2 linked regions of the Homo sapiens genome follow. The protein of the gene in region 2 binds, or shares a complex with, the protein of the main gene of each other region. Each region holds a gene or a part of one and is shown on either strand. Other genes may lie near its edges. A codon is read from its position in the direction of its gene.

Region 1 (7,637 bases), on a different chromosome or scaffold from region 2:
GTCTTCAGATCAGGGTCTGTGGGTAACAGGTTGAAAGTCAGAGGCCAGAGGTCAAATCCTCTCTGACCCCTCTGCCTCTGAATCTACCCTATTCCTTAACCCCGGTCACTTACGTCGTGTCACAACCTTATTGAGAATGTTCATGAGTTCTGTGGCGCTGACCTCCATGTCCTGCGGGCGGAAGTTAGGGGCAGGTCAGGGGTGACTGAAAGGGGTCTGAGAATGTCATGGAGAATGGGAACACTGGGATTGTCATGGTCAAGGGTGTGTGTGCAAGGGCAGCCACAAGGGAAGGGATGGAACGGTTAGGACGGGGCCAGGGACCCCAGGTTACTTACATCTCCAGCCAGCTGGGCAAAGAGTCTCCGGAACTGCCGGACCTCCTCACTCTCGTTGGCCTCAATGTTGGAGTAATGTGTGCGTGGGGGCTGCAAAGGGAGGAGAGCTCAGAGCAGGGGGAGGGGAACCCGGCCAGGACGGCTCCCCAAACCCAGGTACCCTGGGTGGGGAAGTCAGAGTGGGCTGGGCAGCTTGATGAGGAAAAGAATGAGGGGTGGTAGTGAATGGGGTGCACGTATGTGGGGCATGGCTAAGACCCATGGCGAAGCTGCAGACACGGCATGGGAGGAACTGGCAGAGGAATTTCACAAGAAGGGGAGGAAGGTGGGGCTTCTCTACAGGAACAGGGATGGGACCTCGAAGAGGCCTTGGCAGGAGAAGGGGGTCTGGTTGCAGAGGGGGCTTACCGGGGGCTCCGGGTTGTACTGCGCAGCCGCCTCGCTGCGAAGAGATAAGGGGGAGGGGTTAGTGCCAGGGGCGGGGCCTCCAACGGGCAGCACTACAGAACCATCAGCCCCAACGCTCCAGACCCCAGCCGTTATCTTCCTTACTTGGTTGCTGTGCCTTTCATTTGTTCTTGTCCTCATCTGTCCCAATCCACACTGCCCTGGTCGTGCCCCTCTTCTCCCTTCCTCAGGCCAACCCCACCCTCGAGGAAACCCAGAGACCGGTCCCCTGGGAGGCTCCCCTCCTGCCAGGCACACCTACCCAGTGGCAGATTTCAGTCATCTTGGCCACCCTAAACCTAAAAAATCCCACGTAGAATCAAAAGACCCCGCCCCTTGGAGGGCTCACTTCATAGAGGCTCTGCCCCAGCTTCCCAAGGCCTTATCCTCCTCAGGTGCCATCTGCCCAAGACCCTACTCCATGGCCCGCTTCCTAAATGCCCGTCTTCCCAACATCCTACCCCAGCCATTGGTCCCCGCCCCTTCAAGGGATCACTGCTAAGTGGCCGTGGCTAATTAAGCCAACCTGCCCTATCCCTACCAGGGCATTTTTCTCCATTAATCCAGCCAGTTCCCAGCAAGCCCAGCCCATTCTGGGCCATTTACCCTACCCCATTAGGTCTTGCTTCCTCCTGGGCTCACCTCCTCATTAACCCACCTAAAACCTCTGACCACACTCATAAGTCAAGCCCCTTCCGTAAAATGTCACTCAGACGCATTGGCTCCGCACCTTTAACGTTCATCTCCAGGTTAGCCAATGCAGGCTGAGCCCAGACCCATAAGCCCCACCCGCCAAAACTCCACATCAGTCCCCTCAGGACCACATTGTCCTGGTCCCACACAATCAGACTACTCCCATATCAAGCACCGCCCCCAATGACTGATATCCGCCTCACTGGGGTCCACCCCCTTACAGCAGAACTCTCAAACCAGGCCTCCCCGGCCTAATTCATGTACCCAGGTTAGCCTCCAGGTTAATCCTATTCTATTTTTAGACCACGCCCCTCCCAGACCACGCCTCACTGAGGCTCCTCCCATTCCCAGGCCCCGCCCCTCTGATAGTCTCCGCCTTACCTGATGGCGCTGATGACTCCGCCTAGGATGCGCATGGCCGTTCCACCGCCACCGCCGCCTCCACCACCGCCGCCGCCGCCGCCGCCGCCGCCGCCGCCCCCGGCCCCGCTGATCAGGCCTCCAAGCACATTTCCCAGGCCCCCACCCAGGCCCCCGCCTCCCCCGCCGCCGCCGCCGCCGCCCTTCAAGAACGAGTTAACCAGGAACATGGCTGCGACTCACTGCTGGGGGGAAAAAAGGGGACCAGTGGGTGCTTCGCCCCTGAGCCCACACCCTCCCTTCAAACACGCATTTCCGGCAGCTGGACCTGGGAGGAATCTGAAGCCTCCGGGTGGGGGTCTGAGTTTGCGAGGGCGGGTTGTCCGCGGATGGGTGGGGCAGGTATGGGGGATCAGGTTTGCAACCTCCTCAGGTCTAAAAGGCACCCGTGGGGCTTGAGGGAGCCTGGACTGGGTGCACGCGTGAAGGGGAGGGTGCAGATCTGGTGGGGGTTCTCTTGGTGGGGACCCCAAGTTGGCGTAAGGCGTTCCCGACATGTCTGGGCGCTAGAATGTGAGATCCAGAGCCCAGCCTGAATGTAGAGGTCCTTGGCAGGTCATGGGCGCGGAGCAAACATCCACGGCCTAAAGGGCCCCAGGGCGGGGTTTAGGAAATCCCAAATGTGGGCTTGAGAATTTAGGTATTCCCAGCGGCAGGATTCCAGTGTCACCTCTGGCTCTGTGGGCTCGGGTCTAAGATCGTGGCTGTGAGCTCTGGGTTCCCGGACAATGGGGTTCCCCGCTGGAACTGGGGGCACAGATCTACGATCGCGGTTCAGGACACCCCAAGGAAGAATTCACAGGGTATCTCTGAAACCTATGGGCCTGTATTTTGGATCATGAGACAGAGGGTGGAGAAGGGTCCCCGGGACGGCATAAAAGGAGATCGAACAGGTCTGAGGGTTCGAATCTGAGACCATGGATCTGGGGGGCTCCTGAGGCCGAGACTTCACGGTTTCGCCGGGTCTGGGGGCCGCCAAAGTCGGAGTTGCGGGGTGCGGAGGGGGTACGGGCCGGGCGCTTACCGCCGCACACGTCCGGAGTTCTGGGAGTCGGTTCCACTGCCGCTCCCGGGCCTCCCGCAGCGTCCGGCTCCGGAGGGCGGGGCCGGTGACTCAGGCCGCAACTCTCGGGTCGGACACTGCACCGCGGCCCTGCTGTCGCCCGCGCGGTCCTAGAGCCGAAGCGGACATTGCGCATGCGCACCCCACACCGCCCGGCTAGCTGGATCCAGGTCTGGGCCCCGCCCTACGCGTTTCCAGCGCCGGAGGTCTTAATCCCGCCCTGACTCGGTAGGCGGGGGTCTTCCCGACACCCCTCAGGTCTGGGTGGAGGCACCCGCGGACGAGAACTCGGAGGGGACCCACCCCCCGAGTGTCGTAGTGTGAATTTTCACCCTAGGGCATGCCAATATCCTTCCAGGGTGGCGGTTTTCGGTCCGCTCACTAAGGGACTCCGCACGGGCCCTCTGCAGGTGTTGTCGCGACAAACACCTCCTGGAGGCCTGGAGTATGGTTTGACTCACACGCTGGGGGACAGTCGCCCGTGTCTGTGGCGAGGATTGAGGCTGGATTGCCTTTCCCAGTGCCTGCAGCAGCCCGGATGGCAGTCAAACCGCAGGCAGCGCCTGCGCCGCCTCCCAGGCGAACCTTACCACGCCCCCGCCCCAGTCAGGGGCCACCAGAATCATTCCTTCCTGGACTGGCCCAAAGAGTGTCCTCAGTATGCTAGCCTCTAAAGAAGGCCCCAGACACAGGAAGATTCCTTTGGCCACGGCCTGGTTTCTTTATTTACTTAAAAAATATTATTGTTTTTACATAATAGAGACGGAGGTCTCGCTATGTTGCCCAGGCTGCTCTTGAACTCCGGGCCTCAAGCCGTCCTCCTGCCTCAGCCTCCCAAAGTACTGTGAGGTACTGGGATTACAGGTATGGGCTACCGGCCTTTTTTTGATTTAATTTAATTTTTTACAATAATATTTTTACATAGCCTGGTTTCTTTTCTTTTCTTTTCTTTTTTTTTTTTTTTGTTTTGAGACAGCGTCTTGCTCTGTTGCCCAGGCTGGGGTGCAGTGGCGCCATCTCAGCTCACTGCAGTCTCTGCCTCCCAGGTTCAAGCGATTCTCCTGCCTCAGCCTCCCGAGTAGCTGGGATTACAGGCATGCACCACCACACCCAGCTAATTTTTGTATTTTTAGTAGAGACGGGGTTTCACCATGTTGGCCAGGCTGGTCTCAAACTCCTGATCTTAGGTGATCCACCTGCCTCGGCCTGCCAAAGTGCTAGGATTACAGGCATGAGCCACGGGAGTCCAGTACTTTTTCAGGACTCATCGGGGGGAGCTAAATCTGGCCCCCAGGCAGGCTGGCTGGCTCTTATCCCCTACCCTGCAGGCTGGCTAGGCTTGAGTTGAATCCTGGCTGTGCCCTGTAATAACTGCACAACCCCAAAAGAGTGGCTTGATATTCCTGAGCAGCGATTTTCTCATCTGTAAAATGGGAACATGGGTTGCTCCATACCACTAGGCCCCCTATCAAAATTAAATGATATCTGCAGCAATACTGATTATTAAAAAAAAAACTTAAGTGGTGGCTGGGTGAAGTGGTTCATGCCTGTATTCCCTGCATTTTGGGAGGCTGAGGCAGGAGGATCTCTTGAGCCCAGGAGTTTGACTCCAGCCTGGGCAATATAGTGAGACCTTGTCTCTACAAATAATACAGAAATTAGCTGAATGTGGTGGCATGCGCCTAGTCCCAGCTACTCTAGAGACTGAGGTGGGGGGATCACCAGAGCCCAGGAGGCGGGGGTTGCAGTGAGCCGAGATCATGCCACTGCACTACAATCTGGGTGACAGAGCGAGACTCTGTCTCAAATAAATACTGGGCACAGTGGCTCATGCCAATAACCCCAGGACTTTGGGATGCTGAGGCGGGCAGATCACCTGAGGTCGGGAGTTCGAGACCAGTCTGACTAACATGGAGAAACCCTGTCTCTACTAAAAAATACAAAATTAGCCGGATGTGGTGGTGCATACCTGTAATCCCAGCTACTCGGGAGGCTGAGACAGGAGAATCGCTTGAACCCAGTAGGCAGAGGTTTCAGTGAGCCAAGATTGCACCATTGCACTCCAGCCTGGGCAACAAGAGTGAAACTCCGTCTCCAATAAATAAATAAATAAATTGGTGATAAATGCTTTGTAAATGCCCCCATTAGCTCTGTGTCTGTGCTCATGCTGTTCCCTCAGCCTCGAGGCCAGCTGTATTCCTCAGCTGGTAGACTCTTAGTCTTCCTTAAATAGTACAAAAACAGGCCAGGTGTGGTGGCTCACGCCTGTAATCCCAGCACTTTGGGAGGCCGAGGTGGGCAGATCACTGAGGTCAGGAGTTTGGGACCACCCTGACTAACATGGTGAAATCCTGTTTCTACTAAAAATACAAAAAATCAGCCAGGCGTGGTGGCGTGTGCCTGTAATCCCAGCTACTCGGGAGGCTGAGGCAGGAGAATCGCTTGAACCCGGGAGGCAGAGGTTGCAGTGACTCGAGATCGTGCCATTGCACTCTAGCTTGGGCAACAAGAGCGAAACTGTCTCAAAAAAAAAAAAAAGATACAAAAACAAGTAACCATCAACCACTCCTCCAAGTGCTTGACGTCCATCAGTTCCCTTGTTCTCCTAACAGCCCTGTGACATAGATGCTATTTATTATCCCCATTTTACAGATAAGTAAACCGACTCTGAGGTTAAACCCAAGCAGTCACTCTCCCTAGCCTGTATCCTTAACCACTACCCTTATGCGTTAATAATATAATTAATATAATAGGTCAAATAACAACATCACAACAGACAAAACTAGTTGCAGCTGATGTTTCCTGAGGCCTTGCTGGGGCCAGGCCAAGGTAACTGCTACACAAGCCTTGTCTGCAGGGCAGGAGAGAGAATGGAGATTCTGAAAGGCAGGGTCACGGAGGGTGGCAGAACCAGATCTGAACCCGGGCTTGGCACAGATCTTTTGGTGATGACTAATCCAGATTCCCTTCTCACCACACCCCTCCCTGCCAGACTGACTGCTCCAGCTCTCTGCCCTCTCCCGAGGCTCACTTGCTGCCAGCCCTCATGCCCTCGGCCAGGAACTCCCCTGCTGCCTTTTTTTTTCTGGCCTGATTGTGTAGCTACTCAGGCTGCAGGTGTCACCTCAGGAGTCATCTCTTCCAGAAAGACCTCCCTGTCTCCACCCAACCTGAGACTAGGTGAGGCTTCCAGTTATATGCTTTCAAAATGACTTGTACTTTCTCATGGCACTCACTGCCAATCGTAACCATATTGTCATCTAGTTCTGGCCCCCAACCCCTTATTCCCGGCAGCCCCAGGTGTTAGGTCTCTATCCTCCTCTCTGTACCACTCATGCCATGGGGTGCCTCCCCTACATGCACAGCTTAAATCCTGTCTCTAGGCTATCAACGCCCAGTTTTTTGTTTTGTTTTGCTTTCGAGATGGAGTCTCACTCTGTCGCCCAGGCTGGAGTGCAGTGGCGCGATCTCTGCTCGCTGCAAGCTCCGCCTCCCGGGTTCACGCCATTCTCCTGCCTCAGCCTCCAGAGTAGCTGGGACTACAGGCACCTGCCACCACGCTGGCTAATTTTTTGTATTTTTAGTAGAGACGGGGTTTCACCGTGTTAACCAGGATGTTCTCGATCTCCTGACCTTGTGATCCACCCGCCTTGGCCTCCCAAAGTGCTGGGATTACAGGCATGAGCCACAGCACCCGGCCAACGCCCAGTTTTTTGTGTTGTTCTTAGAGACAGGGGTTCTGTCACCCAGACTGGAATGCAGTGATGTGATGTAGCTCACTGCAGCCTGTAACTCCCGGCCTCAAGGAATCCTCCTCCTGCCTCAACCTCCTGAATAGCTACTGCTACAGGCACAAGCTACCACGCCCGGCAAACATCCAAATTTCCTTTATCTTTTTTCTTTTTTAATTATTTGTAGAGATGAGGTCTTACTGTGTTGCCCAGGCTGGTCTTGAACTCTGAGCTCAAGTGATCCTCCCACCTCAGCCTCCCAAAGTGCTAGGATTACAGGCGTGAGCCACTGCACCTGGCCCTAACCCTAACCCCCAAATTTCTATCTCCAGCCCAGACACCTCCTGCGAACTCCAGGCTCCTACATCCTGCATCATATTCACCATTTCCATGGGAAAGGATGGAAGATCTCAGAGGCTTTTTTTTTCCTTTTTCTTTTTCTTTTCTTTTTTTGAGACGGAGTCTTGCTCTGTCACCAGGCTGGAGTGCAGTGGCGCGATCTCGGCTCACTGCATCCTCCACCTCTGAGGTTCAAGCAGTTCTCCTGCCTCAGCCTCCCGAGTAGCTGGGACTACAGGCATGCGCAACCATGCCCAGCTAATTTTTGTATTTTTTAGTAGAGACGGGGTTTCACCATGTTGGCCAGGATGGTCCCAATCCCTTGACCTCGTGATCCACCCGCCTCAGCCTCCCAAAGTGCTGGGATTGCAGGTGTGAGCCAATGCACCTGGCCCTTAGAGGCATTTTAAGCTTTACATATCCTAAACTGAGCTTCTGACCTTCCTCCAGAACCTGCTCCCTCACTACCTTCCCCACCTAGGTCAGTGGCAGCTCTGTCCTTCCAGTGACTGAGGCCAAACACTCCGGGGTGGTCCTTCACCTCTCTCCTTCACACCCACTCCAACCTGTCAGCAGATATTATTGGCTCCACCTACAGAAACTAAA
Region 2 (5,003 bases):
CACTGTCCATTCCCTTGTCCCCTGATCCTTCAGCTACCCTTCCCTTGCCCACCTCCAATCTTGAGTCAGTCCAAACATCTCCCACATCTTTCCTGCCACCTGTGCAGCTGGACAGAGAAATCACCGATGCGAGGAGGTTGGGACTCCTGCACTCTCATGGCCACCAGCCTCCCCTTTGCCCTCAAAATCCACTCAGCAAGCAAGAGAACTTCAACTCATTTGAGCCGAGTTTGGGAAATCCATTGTCTCACCTTGTTCAGGAAATATTAGGATGGCATTTGCCTATCATCTCAAGTCATCTTGAGGAAATGATTCATCAAGAACCACAAGCACCAGACCAGTGACTTCATCTGCATGTTTTCTCAGCTCCCTTGCTTGTACCTACCCCAGGAGGAGCTGGCCAAGGTCGAGCAGGGAACTTCCTGAGAGGCACATACGTCTCTGTGCTGCCTAACAGCAGATCAGCAAGCAGTAGAAATTAGAGCTTCCCTTATGTTATGGTCAGATTATCAAAGTTTCTGAATTGGATTTTAAAAAATTTTATAGTTCCACATTTTAATTATAGGCAAGGTGTCTTTTCCTTTGAATACATGAATTTACAGAGGCAGCATACCTTGTTAAAGTAGAAACAAGCTATAATTGTGTGCTCATAAACCGTCCTGTGGGGCTGCCCTCCAGGAAGGAAAACATGGCATGGTGTGATTGCATGGGGTAACCCTTTATTTTTATTTAACAGTACATTTGGAAGAAGATAAGGCAACAAGGCAAAATTTCTATAATGTTGCTAGCATTTTCCCAAGGTAAAGCCAGGAAACAAACTTGTGTCCTTTCTATAAGAACTTCTAAGTGATGTCCCCTCTAACTCCATGGACAGACACTAGTGGTGGTGAAGTTCATAAAGTTTTGAGGTGGCAAACAGCTTATTTTGTCCTTTATCATAATTGGTTTACAAATTGGATGCCTGGTTTTGGCATACTGGTTCAGTTGATCAAGCGCAGGATCCCTTTGGTCTTTGTAAGACCAGATGTATAAGGCCGAATAGGGTCAAGAACTTGATTGTAAGGAGAACGATTTACTATTACCAATCAATATTCTACAAAACCTGTCTCTTGTTTAACCCAAGCGACAGAGGTGAGTCTTCTCTCCTGGACTCTCCAGATGCCTTGACAAGATTACTTCATGATATACCATGTTTCCCAGTTGGCTCATGGGAAATGGTAATCTTGGACTGTTGTTTGGTAGAATCAACAGCTGCATTTTAAACTTGAAGTTGCTTTAAATATTCCCTGCCAAGGGCCTCGTGTCCTTTGAGAGCGACTCAATGTTTTTGCTCAGCTGTTAAATACCTCCCTGCATTTTTTTTTCCTGATTTAATATTGCTATGAACAGGAAAGTGTGTAAAAGTAAAAAGTGTATACTATTTACAGATTTAAAGCTTTCTTTGACCTTGTCAAGGGTTAAGCGACTCATTTGCATTTAGTATAATGATATGCAAATCTTTTACTTTGATGTGTGAAACTTCTGCTATCTCAAATTGACAGTATCATTATTTTCAGCTATGATCATCCGTTTAAGTAAATGTTCCCATAATTTTGAGGTCCAGATACAAAGTGTATTTCTATGGAAGCTTAGTCCTTGGCTGATTTTCCATCATGAGAAGTCTTCAGGCAGATTAGTTATAACTTCAAAGTACTGAGAAACAGAGCCACTGTGAGGAAGGAAAAAAAAAAGTCAGCTCAGTGACCACTTTTAAAATTAAAGGCTATTTAAGTACCTGTAGATTGTTCCAAAAAACTTGTACTGGAAAAGCTGATTGAGGGCTACAATATCAGTGCACTAACTCATATTTTTCTTACCTGATTTCTAGAGTCTAGCTTTTAACAGGTCAGTAGTCTGTGTGATTTGCATTAAGTGGCCATGAATCATATTACAGGGTTGATTGCACACATGAAAAGTGAAATTCACACAACAGAAATTAGCATTTTCACATCTCTGCCTCAGAGTATCACATCAGAAGTTAGTTTGGGATGTGGATATCCCTGCAACCAATGGTGTTCAGCATTGGTTCTAAGTTGTAGTGATACGGAAACTTTAAATCAGATTGATTCAACTGGTCTGGGATACAGACAGGACACCAGCACTTTGGCAAAGCTCCCCATGTGATGGAATCTGCAGCCAAGGTTGAAATCCCTGCAGACTGAACGGAGAGCTTCTGAACATGGCTCATCCTTGCAAAGACTACGAGAAGCGAGGATCTCCAGGAACCTGCAAAAGGTAAGGCTTAGGAGTGGCAGGAAAAGCCAGTGGGTAAGAAGATGCTTCTCGGAGGAGATGCGGAGGGAGTGGACTGAGCAGGCAGGCCAGGTGGACCCTGGAGTGGGGGTGGGTGGCTGGGGTAGAATAGGATATCCAGCAAGAATGACAGGCTAGGATTTCCAGAACTTAACATGTGGCATGTTTCGTGTCACAGTTGTGTTGACTCTACTATTTATTTCATTTTAAATTTTTTGAGACAGGGCCTTGCTCTGTCACCCAAGATGGAATGTAGTGGGGAGATCATGGCTCACTGCGGCCTTGACTTCTGGGCTCAGGTGTTCCTCCCACCTTAGCCTCCTGGGTAGCTGGGTCTACAGGCACGCACCACCATGCCTGGCTCATTTTTTTATTTTTTATTTATTTTTTTCTGAGACAGGGTTTTGCTCTTGTTGCCTAGGCTGGAGTGCAGTGGCACCATCTCAGTTCACTGCAACCTCTACCTCCTAGGTTCATGTGATTCTCCTGCCTCAGCCTCCAGAGTAACGTATTTACAGGCACCTGCCACCACGCCCAGCTAATTTTTTTTTTAGATGCAGTTTTGCTCTTGTTGCCCAGGCTGGATGGAGTACAATGGTGCAATCTCAGCTCGCCGCAACCTCCGCCTCCCGGGTTCAAGCAATCCTTTCGCTTCAGCCTCCCGAGTAGCTGGGATTAACAGGCATGTGTCACCACGCCTGGCTAATTTTGTATTTTTAGTAGAGATGGGGTTTCTCCATGTTACTCAGGCTGGTCTCGAACTCCCAACCTCAGGTGATTCGCCCGCCTTGGCCTCCCAAAGTGCTAGGATTATAGATGTGAGCCACCGCGCCCAGCCCTAATTTTTGTATTTTCAGTAGAGACGCGGTTTCACCATGTTGGCCAGGCTGGTCTTGAGCTCCTGACCTCAGGTGATCCACCTGCCTTGGCCTCCCAAAGTGATGGGATTACAGGCATGAACCACTGCGGCCAGCCTAATTTTTTATTTTTTTAGAGATGGGGTTGACTCTACATTGCAATCTAGGGGTAGAGATATTTCCTAGGATATGTAAAGTTTTAAGCAAGTTAGTGTTATTTGTAACCAGATAGACTATATTTTCACTTTGCTAATACAATGCATAATAGCAGAATGAGACAGTTATTTAGTTGCTGCCTTCCTCCAGAGTTCAAAATCCATGGAAAAGAGCTGCCAGTGCCTTAGACCTGCCCTCCTCACCACTTCACTCCTCTGTTACACGGACAGGACTGACAACTGCCATTCTCACCCAGTGTCAGCCACTTCGCCCGGCCCTCTGTGGCCTTCCCTGAGTATAGAGGAAATGCTGACTGGAGCCAGGTGATAATGGAAGTATACCCCACCTGGCTTCTTTCTTTCAGTGAGAGAACTTCCTGTCATTGGGATGACACGAGAACATTTTACGCTTTGCTTTTTGTGAAATTAGCATACCCACTTAATTCAGATTGATGATCATTTCAGAGATGTGTATTGCTAGGGTTCCAGACACATGAGTGCAATAACAATAATAAATGGCAAACGTATTTACTAGTATTGGTTTTATCTTAAACGGGGAGGGAGTAGAGAAAACTAATTTGCTTAAAGTATTTTAAGTAGATCCACTCTAAGAATGATGGATCTTCCCAAAACCCAACTTGAATTTCAGCTGAAGGATTTCTTTATATAAACATGTTCTCCCTTGCATGCTAATCAGGAGTTCATTTTTCTAAGCATGATCCTGCAGCCACTCCTTAGTTTAACCTTGAGCTACACTCAAGTCAAAGCTCATGAGAAGAGGGAGCCAGGCGTGCATTTTGGACTTGAGAATAGGTGGTTGGAAAACAACTGCAAGTAAAAGTGCATTGTGGGATCTTACAACCGGTTACAGGCCTGGCCCCGACAGACCAAGAGCTCTTTAAAGCAAAACTTGAAAAAGCAGATCACTCAAGTAACAGCCCTTTCCGCCCCATGCCTCCCCCATCCCCTTAGAAGCAAGGCGGGGCCTGCTGACTCACAGAGATAAGGTCGAGCTCTATTGTTCCAGTATTCTCGGGATCCAGCTGCTTAAATATCTCTGTGGAGGGAGAAAAAGAGGGTGTCACAAGTGAGTGAGCTGAAACAGATCACATTATCCTCTTTTCAGTTCAGCAACTGACTTCACTGACCACCATACATGCTTTCTTCCTCACCCTCAAATTAGTAAAGAGGGAATTTCATTCTCAACTCCTGGAAGACATGTCTCTAGTTTAGATGATTTCACCGAGGTGAAAGGCAGGCCACTTTAATACCAAGAGAACTGAAATGAGTCATTCCCCAAATATCCACTTACTGAATAGCGTTTCCAGCCGAACCAAACACCGAACAAAATTATCAAAATCGATGATGAGCTGGTCATCTGCAAACCGAGCAACGATGACTTGGTGGAGTTGACAGGGCATCTTGAAACCTGAAGTTACATGAACAAACAAACTCATTGCTAAGCATTAGATTGTTCCATTTAGCTGCGCTCACAGGCTATGAAACTAATGTGGTGATTTAAATGAGGTATAATTGCTTTTGTCCCTTGGCTGCTCTTCTGTGAGACTGGTTTGATTTTGCAAAGCCAGTACCTTCTGCTGTTTCTTTTGTTTTTGAACTGTCCACCTTCACCCTGCCTGTGTCCTTTGCTGACACATAAGTGTTTTCTTGCCTGTTTCTGTTCTCATGGTCACAGTTG

Evidence for each region. Proteins that work in one complex are often made in the same cells at the same time.
Region 1: the proteins of CAPN2 (region 2) and CAPNS1 are in contact, whole or in part, in a crystal structure (PDB 1KFU), measured with the Homo sapiens proteins. Residues at the interface, in NP_001739.3 of Homo sapiens: Ala2, Gly3, Ile4, Ala5, Lys7, Leu8, Ala9, Arg12, Glu13, Glu16, Phe60, Arg366, Arg416, Arg417, Arg418, Arg420, Asp494, Ile516, Phe551, Glu575, Lys578, Val581, Asp582, Asp585, Gly588, Ser589, Gly590, Gln641 (codon at 4,716), Leu642 (codon at 4,713), Gln644 (codon at 4,707); in NP_001003962.1 of Homo sapiens: Thr85, His86, Ser88, Asp111, Asp112, Met113, Glu114, Ser116, Thr118, Asp142, Arg145, Ser146, Ala149, Val150, Met151, Asp152, Ser153, Asp154, Thr155, Thr156, Gly157, Gly160, Phe161, Glu163, Asn206, His208, Leu209, Met212, Ile213, Arg215.

Annotation. Positions count from the first base shown.
Region 1 is NC_000019.10:36,135,443-36,143,079, reverse strand, and holds the start of CAPNS1 (calpain small subunit 1), read right to left. Parts: upstream 3,015-7,637; 5' UTR 2,923-3,014; exon of another isoform or gene 2,815-2,922; intron 2,091-2,814; exon of another isoform or gene 2,084-2,090; 5' UTR 2,069-2,083; coding exon 1,860-2,068; exon of another isoform or gene 1,516-1,859; intron 1,455-1,515; exon of another isoform or gene 1,402-1,454; coding exon of another isoform or gene 1,397-1,401; intron 781-1,396; coding exon 747-780; intron 429-746; coding exon 339-428; intron 172-338; coding exon 114-171; intron 17-113; coding exon 1-16. UniProt on the Homo sapiens protein: Regulatory subunit of the calcium-regulated non-lysosomal thiol-protease which catalyzes limited proteolysis of substrates involved in cytoskeletal remodeling and signal transduction. Essential for embryonic development.
Region 2 is NC_000001.11:223,771,539-223,776,541, reverse strand, and holds the end of CAPN2 (calpain-2 catalytic subunit), read right to left. Parts: intron 4,734-5,003; coding exon 4,617-4,733; intron 4,362-4,616; coding exon 4,303-4,361; intron 3,832-4,302; exon of another isoform or gene 3,456-3,831; intron 2,275-3,455; exon of another isoform or gene 1,709-2,274; coding exon 1,685-1,708; 3' UTR 524-1,684; downstream 1-523. UniProt on the Homo sapiens protein: Calcium-regulated non-lysosomal thiol-protease which catalyzes limited proteolysis of substrates involved in cytoskeletal remodeling and signal transduction. Proteolytically cleaves MYOC at 'Arg-226'.